Regions from separate parts of the Homo sapiens genome. Here region 1 is linked to region 2. Evidence: fine-mapped expression QTL. Tissue or cell type: blood mononuclear cells. Region 2 holds a variant in brackets; the other region holds the start of a gene. All regions are shown on one strand. Distances are from middle to middle.

Region 1 (8,107 bases), 220 kb before region 2:
TTAAAATGTAGGAAAACCATTTTAAAGGGTTGTCTAGGTTCTGTTTAGTCAACAAAACTTAAATAAAAATGAGAAATTGTTTTAGTAAATTTGAAATGGGTTGTTCAGTGCACACTTTTAATTTTAATCCTGTTAAACCAGAAAAAGGTTGCTTTCTACATGATTAATATAACATTATTAGTACAACACATTGCAGAAGAAATAGCAGTACCACTGGTTTGACAAAATATGACTTCTTTATTACATTAGGTATTTATGAACTTTAGATATAACAGCACTTTAAATATATTGAAGATTCAAATAAAAATGTCCTCTGTTTTATCCATAAACCAGTTAATTTAAAGATTTTAAAATATCACACAATGACAGATAAACCTAAAAGGGACATTAGAGATACCTTAGTACCATCCTTTCATTTTACAAAGGAGGAAGATAAGAACTAGAAACAGTAAAACATTTGTCTAAAAATCTGACAGCTAGTTAGTAACGAATAAACAAATCTGGCTCTTCTAAGCACTTGCATGTTAAGCACAAAATGAAATCATTGAATGAAAACATAAATATTTTGAGAAGTCAATTCATTCTTTGCCCTTCTTTTATAAACAATCTAAGTCACCACCCGTAATAATCACCTCCAAGCAGTTAACGCCCTTCCTTGCATTGACTCTGTAGCTGAAAGGCTGTGGCTTTATTTTCAGCTAAGTGAGAAAAGAAGCACATGCAATAGAATAGGAATAGCTCATTGAAAAAAATACGCTATTTTAAAAGCCAATACTATTTCCAAGACAGGCACTTTGATCAAGTATAGAGAGCATTTTGTTAGAGCATCAAACCATTTGGAAGTCAGTTGAAAGGAATGGCTCGTGGAAAGCAGGATGCTTTAAAGGGAAACATAGCAACATTCACACTGTTTTGTTCCAAATTGTACCTTAAAAACAGCTGTGTGTGTGTGTGTGTACGTGGGTGTGCGAGTAGAAAGGGGAGAGGAAAAGGATCTTCACTTGAGTTTAAGCAGGGTATTTCACTAGGATTCAGTTGTATTTGGCCAAACTAGTGAGTGGAAAGCTGGTCTAGTAACCAAAGGCCGGCTGTATGATGGGAGGGTAAATCTGAGTGCAGGGCAGCTCCTTTCTCTCTGTCTCACTCCCAGGACAACCCCTCAAGGGATGGAGAGAGCTACTAGCAAGCTGAGCTGCAGCACCAAAACCTTGATGCTCTAACAGAGCTTAACAAAGAGGAGAGAAAGGCATTGTTTCTCTTTTAGCATGATGGGACACATAGTTCTGAGTAGAAGGGCATGTTAATAAAAACTCTTTGAGACAAAATGCAACTTCCCAAACTCTATGCAGAATGGCTAAGGACAAAATACTCTCGTTATTTTGCTTCTAATACTAAACAGATTTTTCTTTTGAAATTCAAACCATGCAACCTCTAAATTGATGCGGGATGTGGGTAGGGAAGGTGGTCGGTGAGAACACCAGAAATCTAAGATTTTCCCATTGGTTCTGCTACTAAATAGGTGAACACATTTGGGAAAATCTTTTTACGGGGAACTCAATTTTTTTACCTATAAATCATGGGAGTTTTGGTCTTTTCCTATTCAAAATTCAATGGTTCTATTCTGAAGGAAAATATTTTCCTTTAAATTATAAAGGCAAAAACTTTCTGAGATTACAAAAAACACTTCCAGGGGCTCACCTAAGGTCCCTGAATAGCCCATAATCCCCTTGAAATTATGTGAAAAATTTCCGGTGAATGTGTGTATGTATGCAAGCACTTTTCTAAGAGGAGGGACAGTATTTTCATTAGAGCCTCAAAAGGAAATTTGGTCCAAAAATGTTGAAGACCACTAGTTGAAACAGTAAATGGAGTCTTCGGTTTCTGATTTATTTGGCTGCAGAGCAGATTAGCAGCAATCTTTATATGGTTATAAAATCTATCCCACAAAGCTTTCTTGAGTTTCTCATTTATTTTCATGAGCTGTGTGTTTGTAATTTTTTATGAGCAGAAAGGTTGTTCAAAATCAAGAGTCCATTTTCATGAAAGATTTTAAATTCTGGGGATTTTAAAGATGTATTTTGATTAGTGGCTAAAGAGAGCCATTTTACATCACAAAATTCCAAACATATAGCATCTTAAACACTTGCCCATTCATGTTGAATCATTTTAATATTTCTTTCTTCCTGAGTTAACTGACTTGAAACAAAAGGCTTGGCTCCTCCTTCCAACCTGCTTTTCTTCTGATGCTTAAGTCTGCTTTGAAATAATGATGGTGAATTAACTGTGGTTCCATTGGAAGTACTGTAGTAATCTCCCACTTTATCAGGATTCGATCTCTAAGATACATTAAATACAAGATATTTCTATAATATTCTTAAAGAATTATTTGAAAATGGGAGAGAAGACACTAGGGAACCTGAGGAACTAAGAGGAAAGACGCCTGTAGAAAGAAAGGAGAACCAAAGAGAAGATCTACATGATCAGATACCAAAATAGTATCAAATCCCTAAGCAGAGAAACAAGAAAAAAGAAGGAATTTCTTAAACAGGGAACACATATAGCAACTAGAGAAGAATGACTTTTTGAATACATTAAACGACAACGACGAAAAACATATAACCCAGCTTTTCAAGAACATCTTTTGGCTGACAATCTCAAGGCGTTGTATGGCTCCTCATGGCAGAGACAGAGGTGAGGAGACAACATCACAGAAAGGAGGACGTTGCCAGTGATTATCAGATAAATACAAGAAGCTCAGGGGAACAATCTTTTGTGGCAAATAAGTGCCAGTCAGTGACACATGCTGATTTTTTTTTCCTTGAGACAATATCAAAGAGGTATAATGTAAAGGGAAGAAAATCAGGTGTAAGCATTGGTCTTTTAACAAATTATCTTAGGTAATCTCAGATGCTTTTTAAGCGACTCCTTTTCCTAATGTGTGTCAATTTCATCAGAACTACTAGCAGCTCCTAAGTCCAAACGGAGAGGAATGCAGCTTTCAGTGCCTCTGTTCCTACCAGAGCCCTGCAGCTTCAGGTCACCGGCTCCAGCCACAGTGAGCCTGGAGGGCGCCAGGAGAAGAAATATGTTCTCACACGCACCAGGTCCCCAGATGACCCTGCCTGGGCGCTGCGTTCACTCAGCATCCTCCTGTGACTCTTCCTCTTTCGAGTAACAGCGTTTTTCTCCTCTCTGCGCCTCCTCAAATTCCATTCAAGAAAAAACCTGGGCTTTCAGCTAAAACGCACACCGGCCCCGCTCCATCCCGCTCCGGGCGGCCGCCTCCAGGGGGGCGCTGGTGGCTCCTCGCAGCCGCGGGAATGAGGGCGCACCCTCTTACCCCCGCGCGCGCCCGTTGCCATGGGAACGCACTCGACCGGGAAGCCCGAGGGAGAGGCGGGAGGCAGCGGCGCGGCCGAGCTCGTGGGAGACGCTATCGCAAGATGGCGTCTGCGAGGCCGCGGGATGCGGAGTGAGCGCGCCCCGCCGGGGGCTGTGCGAGGCTGCTGCTGCTCTCCCCGTCGCCGCCGCCGCCGCCGCCAGTGCGGCGCCGCCTCTCCGCCAGCCACTGCGCCGCGGCCAAGCCTCCTGCCTCGCAGGTACCTCCTCCCGCGCGCACGCTCCGCGCCTGATGGCAGCGACAAGTGCCGGCTCGCGGAGAGCTAGCGGGGCTCCCTGGGCCCGGTGCGCCCGACAATAACGCGTGAATAACTTTTTCTTGCAGCGGTCCCCCGCGTCCCGGCCTGCAGCCTCCCCGGGCGCCGGCGCCCCCAGCACGCCCCATCGGGCACCCCACTCTCTCCGAGGTGTGGGTGCGGCGGGCTGATGAGGTGATCCCTAGCCCGCCTGGGAGGAGCGCCTGGACTCGCGGGCGGCGGCGAGCGCCTTTACAATGGCCCTGACCCTGTTTGGTAAGTGCAGCCGTCTCCCCGCGCCGCCGCAGGTGGGCCGCGTCCCGGGGCTCGGGGGCGGGGGCCTGGGGGGCCTGGGCGCCCGGGGAGGGGGCGCGGCGCGTGGGGTCGGGGCGGGCCGGGGCCGCAGAGTTGGGGCGCCCGGGGCGCCGGCTTGCTCCCTCGCGCCTCTCCCATTGTTTCCTCTCCCGGCAGGGCCGATGGGCGTGTGCTCCCCTGGCCAATTCTCGGCTGGGAGGCTCAGAGGTCCTGGGTGTTTTGCAAACGCACAAAGATTCTCTAAGATGCCAACTTGGGAGTGAAGTTAACTGGTTGTTTTCAAACCTGCCTTTCCCGTCGGTAAATAAATCCTTGGAAAGTTTATTTATTTTGAACGAGGTATCTGTGAGTCCCCAGCCTCCTTGGAATTGCCAAATGCATGTGTTGCTTCCTGTTGGACTATTGGGGAATTTTTTTTTTGGACTCAGTATATTCCGTTGGAAATAAGTATGATTTGTGAACTGAATATGGGTTAAAATTGAAAATGTTTGCACTAACGAATGAGAGCAGACAGAATAAAGTTGGTTACCAGAAGATAACTGTAATCTCAGGAGACTGAGTATTCATTAAGAATGAAATGTTATTTTTGTGGTGTAATTACTGCAGCACTGTTGCTTTTGGTGGTTAAGACTTCAAGCTGTTTTTTTCTCAGTCTGCAATGACAATGGGTTGGGAAAAAGGACTGAAAAGATACATTCTTTCCTTTTACAAAACGACTATGGTACATACGTACCTGACTTTAAGAAAACTCAATATGTGAACATTAGACGTTCAAAGTATTCAGCTTTTTTGAAGAAGCAAAGTACAATGATATGTAATTGATAGCTACGAGAACAGCCTAAGTAAGTTATTCACAATATCAAGTTTCCAGTTCAGTTTTAATTATGTCATTTGATCAAACACGTTAGAGGTGTTACATACCTCAAATGCTTTTTGAGGTAAATACTTCCCAGTGAATTAAGCTGCTAGAATCAAAGTGTTACTTTTATTTAACTATCTTATTTTATAAATTAAACTTAGACCCAGAGAGGTTGTTTCCCAAAGTCACATGGCTCTTTTGTGGCAAAACTGAGCCTAGAATTCACTTCACCAGGCTTCAGTCTGGGACTGTGTTTACTGTGCCCAAGTGCATTACTAGAAGTGCCATTTCTTACTTGGTGATGATCCTCCATAGGTACTTTAAAAAAGTGTCTTCTTTTTCTGAAAAATAATAAAATTCTCGCTGTTTCTCAGTACCTTGTATCTAAGCATTATTTAATAGCAGCATTTTCCTTAAATGTGGACCTTTTTGGTACAAACATTTTCTTTCCTAAAGAGATATTTGGCATTTTCAAGGTGTGGTTTCAGAAGTAAGGTTTACAAGTCAACTTTTCAAATACTCGCATTCCTGACGAATAAAAAAGATAAATTGGGGTGAAAAATGCTCTTTTAAAAGGATTTCTAAATTCTAAATCTTTAACCACTGTGGTGAAGATGAGGAAGGGAAAAGCATGGAATGTGGCCTATAGAAGAAAGTATAAGAAATCACTCCCAGCCTTCAAAATGAATAATGTATCTTTAAAATTTTAAAGTCTACTTATGGGAAAATAGAATTCACTTCCCAAAATCCAGTTTGTTACAGTGTGAACGTTTCTGTGTTATAAAACAAAGCACTCTTGAGTGCAGAGGCTATTTGTTAAGTAGTGATAGAGCAGCAGCTGTTTTTAAAAGTGGTTGTACACCACTCATCAGTCATCTGGGATGTCTATTAAAAATGTAGATTCTTTTGCCCAAAGACATGGGGGAAGGGGATTTTAAAGTGACTCCCTTTGTGATTCTTATGCTCACTCAAGTTTGAGAACTGTTGTATTCAAGATAAATGCTAGGAGATTGGGTCAAACTCGCCCAATACAAAATAGCTTTTTGTGTATGTTGAGAGATGTACCTAAGGGTTAGAAGAAATGGATTTTATTTTAGATTTTACTACCTTTAACTAGTTGGTCTTAGTCAGAAGTGCCTCATGTCCCTTCATATTTACTCTTAATGACCAACTTAGAACAGAAGAGCAATGGAGCAATAAAGTTCTGTGAGATGGTAGTGAAAAGAGTTAGAGGCAGGGACCTAACCAGATCAACAGGATTTGTCAGAGCTCAGCAGAGTTTATACCTGAGGCTCCCCAGAGTAACGACTGCCAGGGCCCTATCTTTTGTATCTTGGTTGATTAGTTAGTGCAGTCCAGCAGTAGAGTCTAGACTAGTTATTTGCTTTGTGTTTTACATTTTCTTTCCATTCAGGCTTTTTATAAATTTAAGAAATGTTCTTTTTATAGGGAGTTGGTGACTTAGTTTTAAAAAGTGGAGCCTCTAACATTACCTGATTTTGTATTTGCATACATTTAATTTTTTTCACCTGTTAAGTATATTATAGGAACTCGAATACTTGTTAAATTAAGCTGAATAGTTAAGACTGTTTTATCTCTCATCCTCACTGTTAATCACCTTTGCTGCTTAACATATTTTTAATGCATATTAGTTTTATTTTGGGATAGAAGAACCAGACCCCAATCTTGAAAGATTTTACAGTCTCATTTGGGAATTGAAAATGTGCATTTTTGAAAGCTTAAGAATTTGCACCCGTTTTTCTTCTCCTTTCAAATGAACTCACATCTCATTATCAGCTTCGATATAGTTTTTAAATCCCCCAATTTCAAAAATTATCCAAATGTATTACAGACTCTGCTCGCTCACCTTGCTCATTTTTTCAGCAAACATCTGTCACAGCGTACAAGAGACATGGTCCTCTAGTGGCACTTCAGAGTCTTTTCTAGAACTATAGCGAATGCACCTAATTCACTAATTACCTAATTCCGTATAGTGAGTGGCACTTAACTATTAACTAATTCCGTATAGGCTTTGTGAGAACTTCCTTAGTAGAGAGCACATGTTTTCTAGTAATTACTGGGATAAAAGGAAAGTCTCAGATCCTTGAATATGGGAATTTGTGGCTGGTGTACCTGACAAAATGTCCTGATTGGCCACACCAATAGAGCCTTAGTTGGCAGAGCTGGGTGAATAAGCATTCTGCCAGCTCTTGCCTTGGCAGGAATCTCTGTCATTTATAGCTTAATGGGGCTGTGGTTTATAGCCCAGACCAACTGATGCGATTGGGAACTCAGTTACCGTCGGCTGGGCTGGCTGAACCTTGAATAATGGTCCTCTATCTGGGTAGAGTCACCTCTGGCGTTGCTGCTCACCCTCCTTGCCCCTTATTCTTGTTACCATTTAGTCACCATCTTACTACCATAGATCACTTCTAATAATGCTTATGATTTTGCTATAATTTTGTACCATCTTTCCTCAGACCCTTCTGCCATGGAAACCTTTTCATTATCTCACTTTATTCAGCATCTGTCACTAACCTGACACACCTACCTATGGACATCTTTTGGAGCAATTAAATAGCAATGGCATATTCTTTGTGATGTAGTTAGGAAATTTTCTGATTTCCCATAGGAATGTCCTGAAATTAAAATGTATTTTTTAAAAGACAAGTCAATTGAAGATTTTCATATTTGACTGAAAGCTAATTTTATAGGAAGTTCCCACTTGACTATACTCTCTGCTGACATTTTTATTTTTCAGTTGTCCAAAGAATACAAGAGGCTGGCCCAGTGGTGTGAGCTCATCTGCCTTTTTCAGAATATATTCTTTTCAGCTGTCATTTAAATCATCATCCTTATTTAAATTTTTGTCCATGTTCCTTCTTGTACTGGTGTCAAAACTTAATATTTTAGTCAGACATGGTGGCAATGTGCCTGTAGTCCCTGCTACTCAGGAGGTTGAGGCAAGAGAACTGCTTGAGTTCAGAAGTTCAAGACTGTAGTTGCACTATGATTGTGCCTGTGAATAGCCACTGCACTCCAGTCTGGACAACACAGCAAGACCCTGTCTCTAAAAGAGTAAAAATAAGAAAACCCAGCTGGGCATGGTGGCTCACATCTGTAATGGGTGGCCCATGCCTCCTGGCACTTTGGGGGGCCTAGGCTGGAGGATCACTTGAGCTCAGGAGTTTGAGACCAGCCTGAACAACACAGGGAGATACCATCTCTACAGAAAATAATAATAATAATAAAGCCTGGGTGCAGTGGTTCATGCCTGTAATACCAGCATTTTGGGAGG
Region 2 (8,107 bases):
AGAGCATCAAGAAAACAAAAATCGGAAACTATATTCCATACAGTTGATTGCTCCTACTTCCCTTCAAAGTCACCTCCCAGTTTCTGACTCAAATCTGACTGTCCTCAATACTTTCTTTTCTTATTCAAATTTTATTCTAAATTGCATAACTTAACCTAAATTAGATGTTCTTAGAGAAAGGAAATGGGACTTTATCAAATTTTATAAAAATCACAAATCACAAGGAGAATGAATCAGATGAACACTTATTAACTAAAATCCTTAATTAGGAAGACCAGGGAGGTTCCCGAGAAACACAGGAAGTCATTTTTATGCAATAGGCACTAAACTCAAGGACTTTCTGTTGGAAATGTTAACTTCAAAGATTCTGTATTTCTCAGAGTGCATTTGAAAAGACTAGCATCCCATGTACTAGTCTCTTGTACATGTGAGAAATATGAATTGTTATGAGAACTATGACAACCTCCATCAACCGAACACAGCTATAGGTCCTAAGAACTGAGACCACCTGTGTCAACATGACTTAGTTGTTTTGTCCAGGAAATCTTTGCCCAAGGCAGATAAGACTATGAAGCAATAATTTCACTTTTGCTTCAGAAACTCCCTATAGAGCAATCTACTTGAGACAGCACACTGCTCACCTGAGCAAACAGCTTGCTTACCAAACAATAGCTTATCTATCAAAAGTCCCTGCCAGACCCTGCTGGGTTGGCTAGTCTTAACTACTATATGCCCTGCCTTAAAAAACCACCTTAACCAACTTGAGCCGAGTCCCCCCAGAACCCTACAAAATCCTCCTGTCTTCCTCATCCCGAGACACGACTTATATGCTGTGGCTCTCTCCCTTTCCGCCTTGAGTTCTGCTAGCTTAGTTTTGCTTTATCAGCAGGTTTGGTGATGCATTAGATAGTTCAACAGGTATCCCAAGAGCAAAGAGAACGACAGTTAAACGAGCTTGGGAAATACTGTATACCAATTCCACCTGTGTGGAAATTAGAATCATGTTAGCATAATAAAGCTTCTGAGAAGTTCTGCATTTTAAAAAGTTGAGGAGATTATACAAACTGGCAACTTGTGTATGGGAAGCCTTGTTGTTCCTGCAAACTTACTAACTTATCTAAAAACATTTTTTTTTCTTAACATCAGTTTTAAAAACATTACTTTAGGTCGATGGATGAATGATTTATCAGAAATGAAGGATCCTGGCATCCTGCAGCTAATGGGAAGTGACAAGACGCCCAGGCTCCCCACGCTGAGAATGTCCCCAGTCCACCAGCATAGCCTCTGCTGGGCCTGCCCTATGCCGGGAGTTCCCATGTGCTTAATGAGTTTGAGTAGACTGGAATCCCCGGATCTGTCAACATACAGCCTTTCGCTGAGGCACCCCCAGCAAGGCACCCATCCACTTTTTCAGAGTAGGAGGAGCCAGGATGCCTTCTTGCCCCAGAGTCCCAAAGCCACTTGAGCAGCCTGCCCACTAACACAGGCCCAGCCCAGAACCAGCATTCAGTGAACACCCACCCGATACCCATTCCCACTCCAGATGGTGATGCCAGGAGATCAGAGGAAATCCACACTGAGAACCTTCACAGTCTCTCAGTCAGGACAGCTAACTTCCCTGTTGTTTCCACTCTGGAAACCCCCTGGTTTTGTCCCAGGTCTGGGAGAAGAAATTAATAAATGATCAGATAATTCTAGGATCTGATGCATTGTCTGTGGAACCGGTGGCCAAGCAAAGAGGATGCGTGGCTCACAAAATCAAGGTTATTCCAATTGCCAGTGAGCATTTTGCAAGTGTGTTTCTTAGTATGTCCCCATTAACAATCACTAATATTAATTATAGTGATTAAAAGGAAACATCTGTGAAGACAGGCTTGAATTCTTATAGCTCTGGCTGGGTATAGCCAAATAAGACAGAGCTGCCAGAGGGAAGCATCATCATCATGTCTCTAGGAAGGGAGGCAGCAAGAAGGAGGGAGGGAGAAAGGCGAAAAAAAGGAAGGAGAAAGAAAAGATATTAATAGATAGGCATTAACTTAAACCGTTCAGGCTAGGCCCTAGGACACTGATTTTGTCTGCCCTCTCCCTTTTTCCTCCCTCTCCCCCTTCCTTGCTCTTATTACTCTGGCTTGCTGCTAGTTTTCAGATTGCAGAGCAATGCGTCTACAGAGGAAGCCAGAGTTTTTCACTTTGCGAAATTCATGCTGTTCCAAGTCTACTGAACTGAACATGGATTATAGCAAAGTTGTTAACATTTTACCTGCCCACATACCACGAACCGCTTTTCTTTTTTCTTCTTCCAACTTTATGACGGGAAGAAGCAAAGGGTTTGGTGGAAGGTCATTCTGACGGGAGCTGAAAATTTCTCACAAGGAAGAAATGCCCAGTGCCCCTGTACTCCTCTGTAGTGGGGAGTCAAGTCTCAGAGATGGCCAGGAGAGGACTGGCCCCACTCAGCCTTAGCCTAAGGTGCAGAAAAGCTCAGTCTGCTAGGAGAGGCCTCCCCACCCCCCACCCTCACTCTATACCTGGCCAAACACAAAGAAAAGTGGTAAAGAAAAAAAAAAATCTCTGCGATCAGTCAGCAACCCTGGGAGCAACTTTCTTCCTGATGTGTTTTCCTTCATTGAAAGCCTGGCCCAATCAAAGACAATGCCAAGAGCAAGCTACTTAGTTCTCAGAATGCCCAAGGTCTTCTATAATGTTGTGGAAAAAGACTCCAGGCTTGGAACGTAAAAACAAGGCTTGCCAATTATAAAAACTGCATTGTGGGAGAAATGAGAAAGCTGGCCAGTCTGGGGCTGGGGCCCCCGAAATATCAAAATCGAGGGCTTGCTTTGATATCTACAAGCCCTGCAAAGCTTTCCTTGGGGTCAGCAGGGGAGGGTGACTACAAGGATGATGGCCTTCCGGCCACTCCCACAGGAAAGACCTCAGATGGGATCCCCGTGTTCAGCATGGTATGGTGGTAGACAAAAGGACAAAAAATAACAAATGCTGGCAAGGATAGAGAGGGGAACACTCGCACACTGTTGGTGAAAATGTAAAGTAGTATTACCATTATGGAAACCAGTACGGAGATTCCTCAAGAACCTAAACTAGAACTAC[A/G]GTATGATCCAGCAATCCCACCGCTGGATATACATCCAAAGGAAATGAAATTAGTATGCCAAAGACACTTGCATGTTTATCACAGCACTACTCACAATAGCTAAGACAGCGAATCAACCTAAGTGTCCATCAACAGATGAATGGATAAATAAAATGTGGTGTATCCAAAATAGAATATTATTCAGCCATAAGAATGAAATCCGGGCCAGGCGTGGTGGCTCACGCCTGTAATCCCAGCACTTTGGGAGGCGGAGGCGGGCGGATCAAGATGTCAGGAGATCGAGGGCATCCTGGCTAACACAGTGAAACCCGGTCTCTACTAAAAATACAAAAAATTAGCCGGGCGTGGTGGTGGGCGCCTGTAGTCCCAGCCACTCGGGAGGCTGAGGCAGGAGAATGGCGTGAACCCGGGAGGCGGAGCTTGCAGTGAGCCGAGATCGCGTCACTGCACTCCAGCCTGGGCGACAGAGCGAGACTCTGTCTCAAAAAAAAAAAAATAAAAATAAAAATAAAAAACTCCTGTCATTTGCAGCAACATGGATGAAACTGGAGGACATTATGTTAAGTAAAATAACATGTTACTCATGTGTGGGAGCTAAAAAAAACCGTGAATCTCATAGAAATAGAGAGAGAATGGTGGTTACCAGAGGCTGGGAAGGGATGGAGGATGACGAGACGTTGGTTAATGGGGACAAAAATACTGTTAGATAGAAGGAGTAAGTTGTAGTATTCGATAGTATAGCAGGGAAGTTATAGTTAATCATTTATTGTCTATGTCAAAATAGCTAGAAGAATTGTGACTCTCCCAACTCAAAAATGTTTGAAGTGATAGATTTCCCAATCAGCTGACTTGATAATTACAAATTGTATACAGGTATCAAGATATTATACGTACCCCCATATACATGTACAACTATTATACATCAATTTCGTAAAAGAAAGACCTTAGTGAAATGGGAAAAGTTCACTTGTCGCCCTTGCAGGGCGTGCGACACGGGGACCGGCTTGCTTCTTCAGTGCCCCATTACTCAGGCCTCTAGGGAGCATACAGACGCGAAGGCTACCGGGCTCCAACCCCACGGCAGTGTCGAGGGGTGGATGTTTACAGCTCCTGAAGCCCCAGTGGGCGTGTGCTACCCTGCGCTCTTTTAGTTTTGTCGTCTATAGGCAGCTTGTATTAACCAGCTCAATTAGACCCTCTGCCTTGTTGCAACAACAGGGGGCTTTCTGTATCCTGGGTGCTTGCTTTGCTGTAACTGAAGAATCGGATCACACCTGGGCTTGGAGAATGAGTGCAAGATTTTGAGTAAAGGCAGCTCTCAGCAGATGGGGGAAGTCAGAAGGTGATGGAGTGGGAAGGCTTCCCCCCTGGAGTCGACAGCTCAGCGGCCTGGGCTCTCATCCGACTGCCACAGCATCATTCTGCTTCTGCCGGTCAGTGGCCTAGTTCCTCCGCCATTGTGCTCCTCTCCACGTCCTGCCATCTGTGTGTCTGCCTGCTAGGGCCTCAGGATTTTTATAGGCACAGGATGGGGGCGTGGCAGGCCAGGGTGGTCTTGGGAAATGCAGCATTTGAGCAGGAAAACAAAAATGCCTGTCCTCATCTAGGCTCGTAGGGGTGGAGCCCTAGCCAGGGGCCACGCCCTTCCCTCCCCCCCCCCCCCCGCCCCCGCTTCCGTATCACTTAAAGGGACCACGCTCTTCCCTTCGGTATCATTAGGAAGCTCAACAGGAAGGGAGGTGGGGTTATCATAGGCTAGCCATTCCAAAATACTATTTGAAAATGGGACTGAGACCGTAGTTTGGAAAGAAGTACTTGTTCTGAATGATCAAAGGGGAAGATGATCAAAGGGGAAGATGACACAAACTCTATAAAAGGGTCAGATGTCTGTTCAAGGAAATGAAGCATTAAGGATCTGATTATTCTTTAGGTTTTTAACTGATCAGGACTTGCAGTTCTTGTGTTACCAAGGGCCTGGTTTTCTGGTCAGCAGCACACAATTGTTTTAAATCCCAACCACTCATCCTAGTAATCCAAGCCCCTGAGTAGCCACAGGGGTCTTGCATTTCCCCGGGGCAATGGCTTGAGGGAGAGTCTCCTGCCCCTCTATGATTTTCAGGAAGAACTGATTCCCTGTCCCAGGTTAGATGGGTCTCCAGGAATATCCCTTAGTGACTAGAACAGAGCCCTCAGCCAGCCATCCTGGAGCTTCAAGCACCCTACTGCAGTGGGTGGTACATCTGGGCCCCATATGTTCGCAGGGAGGGGCTGAAGAGCCCAGGCCTACATTGCCAGGTCACCCACCCATTTGATGTGTGGTCACAGTGGAATCTGGTTGCCATGGGGATGCGAGGTTTTCTACTCAGGCTGTTTGAGAAGCAAATTTTTCCATTGTGTATATGTAAGCATACTTCAACATCTTTAAATTCCTTTTCTTTTTCAAATAGCATTCAGGGTGGATTCATACATTTAAAGAAAAATTCTAAAAGGCAATTTCCCAGAAAACAGGCTTTTGGAGGGTAACCAGGGTTCAGCCTTTGTTGAGGGATGAGGATAGGAAGAAGGGGCAGGGGCCACTTTTCTGAAAGCACCCAGGTCTACCCGCGCTGTTTAACATCTATCTCTGTGCTGCTGCCAGAGGCTGGCCCAACAGTAGCAGAAGCTCCAGGGATAGGCCAAAGAAAGCATTTTTTTCTTCTTCAACCTTCAACAAGGAAAGTTTACCTTGTTTTCTTTCTTGGTATTCAGTAAATGATTCCACAGCCCAGGCCTCTCTCCTCTATCTCAACACACAGGAACAATTTTTTGAGCTTCTGTGGACTTCTTTTTGGAATATGGTAAAATATACATAAAATTACCATTGTAGCCATTTTTAAATGTACAATTCAGTGGTATTAATTATATTTACAGTGTTGTGCCATCCATCTACAGAACTTTATCATCATGACAAATAGAAACTGTACCTGTGAAACAATAACTCTCAGCTGGGCGTGGTGGCTCATGCCCCTAATCCCAGCAGTTTGGGAGGATGAGGCGGGTGGATTACTTGAAGTCAGGAGTTCAAGACCAGCCATGGCCAACATGGTAAAACCCGTCTCTACTAAAAATACAAAAATTAGCTGGGGGTGGCCACACACGCCTGTAATCCCAGCTACTCAGGCTGAGGCAGGAGAATTGCTTGAACCCGGGGGGCGGAGGTCGCAGTGAGCTGAGATCGTGCCACTGCCCTCCAGGATAAGTGACAGAGCAAGACTCTGTCTCAAAAAAAAAAAAAAAAACTCTCAAGGGGCATGATAGCTACCTGCAGACCCAGCACTTTGGGAGGCTGAGCCAGGCAGATCACCGCTTGAGCTCAGGAGTTCAAGACCAGCCTGGGAAGCTTGGCAAAACCCAGTCTTTACAAAAATTACAAAGATTAGCCAGGTATGGTGGTGCATGCCTGTAGTCCCAGCTATTCGGGAGGCTGAAGTGGGAGAATCACCCTAGCCCAGGAGGTCAAGACCGCAGTGAGCAGAGATTGTGCCACTGCACTGCAGTCTGGGTAATAGAGTGAGATTCTGTCTCAAAGAAGCAAACCAACGACACACACACAATAACTATGCCCTTCTTTTCCTAGCCCCCGCTAACTACTGTTCTATTTTCAGTCTCTGTGAATTTGCTTATTCTAGGTACCTGATAGAAATGGAATAATTCTATAATATTGTCCCTTGGCGACTGGCTTATTTCCCTTGGCACGGGTTCAAGGTGCATCCATGTTGTAGCAGTCTCAATGCTTCATTCTTTTTAAGGCTGAATCATATTCCATTATATAGATGTGCTGCATTTTGTTTATCCATTCATCTGTGGATGGGCACTTGGGTTTTTCCACCTCTGGCTATGGTGAATAAGGCTATGGTGCACAAGGGTCTGTTTGAGTCCCTGCTTTCAATTCTCTTGGATATATAACCGAAGTAGAATCGCTGGATTGTAAGGTAATTCTATGATTCACTTTGTAAGGAACTACCAAACTATTTTCCACAGCAAGCCCGGGAGACTTCTGATTAATGCGTTTCCTGGAGCAGCTGAGGATTGTTTTCCAATAGAGTTTGGCAATGAGAACAATGGCATCTATTTTTTAATTCTCTTATTCACTTTCTATTTTTCTCTGAAGGTTTCTGTATGTCTTCTTTGTTCAAGATTCTCCTATTGACTGTTAGATATAACATATCTGGGGGCATCACTGAATTGATAATTGATTGATTGGTGGACAAAAACTGGCAACAAGGTGGGGTGAAGCAAACATTCTCCTGCTTTTCCAAACCCTCCTGTGGATCCAGCAATACTTGGCTTCCACCGGTCATTCACAGGGACCTTCATCACAACATCCTCTCTCACCCTCCCCACTCCCAGCTTCTGTCTCCCCCAGTCCATCCTCAGGACCAATGGAGTGTTCCTTCCCTGGACTCATTCTCCAAACTTCCACCACACTGGAAGTCTCTACAGCGTTGTCTCGTGTTTTCACTGTTATTCCTAATGTTTTGTCTTCTTGGGGCAGCATATTCCCACCCCTCCCACTTCCACACATACAACAGTCCCAGATATAAGGCTAAGCTCATCATAGAACTTGGAAAGTAAGAGCACACTGACTCACGACCCTGGTCATAGACTTGGACAAATGCTGCTTGGAGGTCCCAGAAGTAAGGAAGCCTGGGGTAAAGGAAGCAGCCATTTCTAGACATGGAGACTGGATTTTGCTTTTCTCTTTTGCATATTCTCATAGTGAATATAAAATATTCAAAGAAAGACATGTAACTGAAGAGTTTAATGAATAATTTATAAAGCAAACATCTTTGTCACCACCACCCAGGTTAAGAAGAAAAACATTGCCAGGCACCCCAGAAGTCCCTGTCCACCCTGGGAAAGAAAGTCTGGCTGATTCTGATTCCTTTCCTTCCCCTGGGTATCCGTATCTTGTGTTTTATAAATTTTTTTCCATATTTTTGCTACTTTTGTATGCAT

Evidence for each region. PIP is the estimated chance that this variant, and not a neighbour inherited with it, causes the effect.
Region 1: CHN1 starts here. The variant in region 2 is fine-mapped to the expression of CHN1 in blood mononuclear cells (TOPMed, PIP 0.93).

What each region holds. Positions count from the first base shown.
Region 1 is chr2:175,000,698-175,008,804 of GRCh38, reverse strand. CHN1 (chimerin 1) reads left to right here and starts at 3,424. Exons shown (of 13, transcript NM_001822.7): 1 at 3,424-3,911. The coding sequence starts at 3,893. RefSeq lists a silencer at 3,664-3,723 and an enhancer at 3,708-4,254.
Region 2 is chr2:174,785,277-174,793,383 of GRCh38, reverse strand. It overlaps LOC124907908 (a long non-coding RNA gene), which reads left to right and starts at 5,434. Exons shown (of 2, transcript XR_007087311.1): 1 at 5,434-5,510. RefSeq lists enhancers at 4,549-4,843, 5,256-6,071. The variant A/G (reference allele first, on the strand shown) is at 3,109.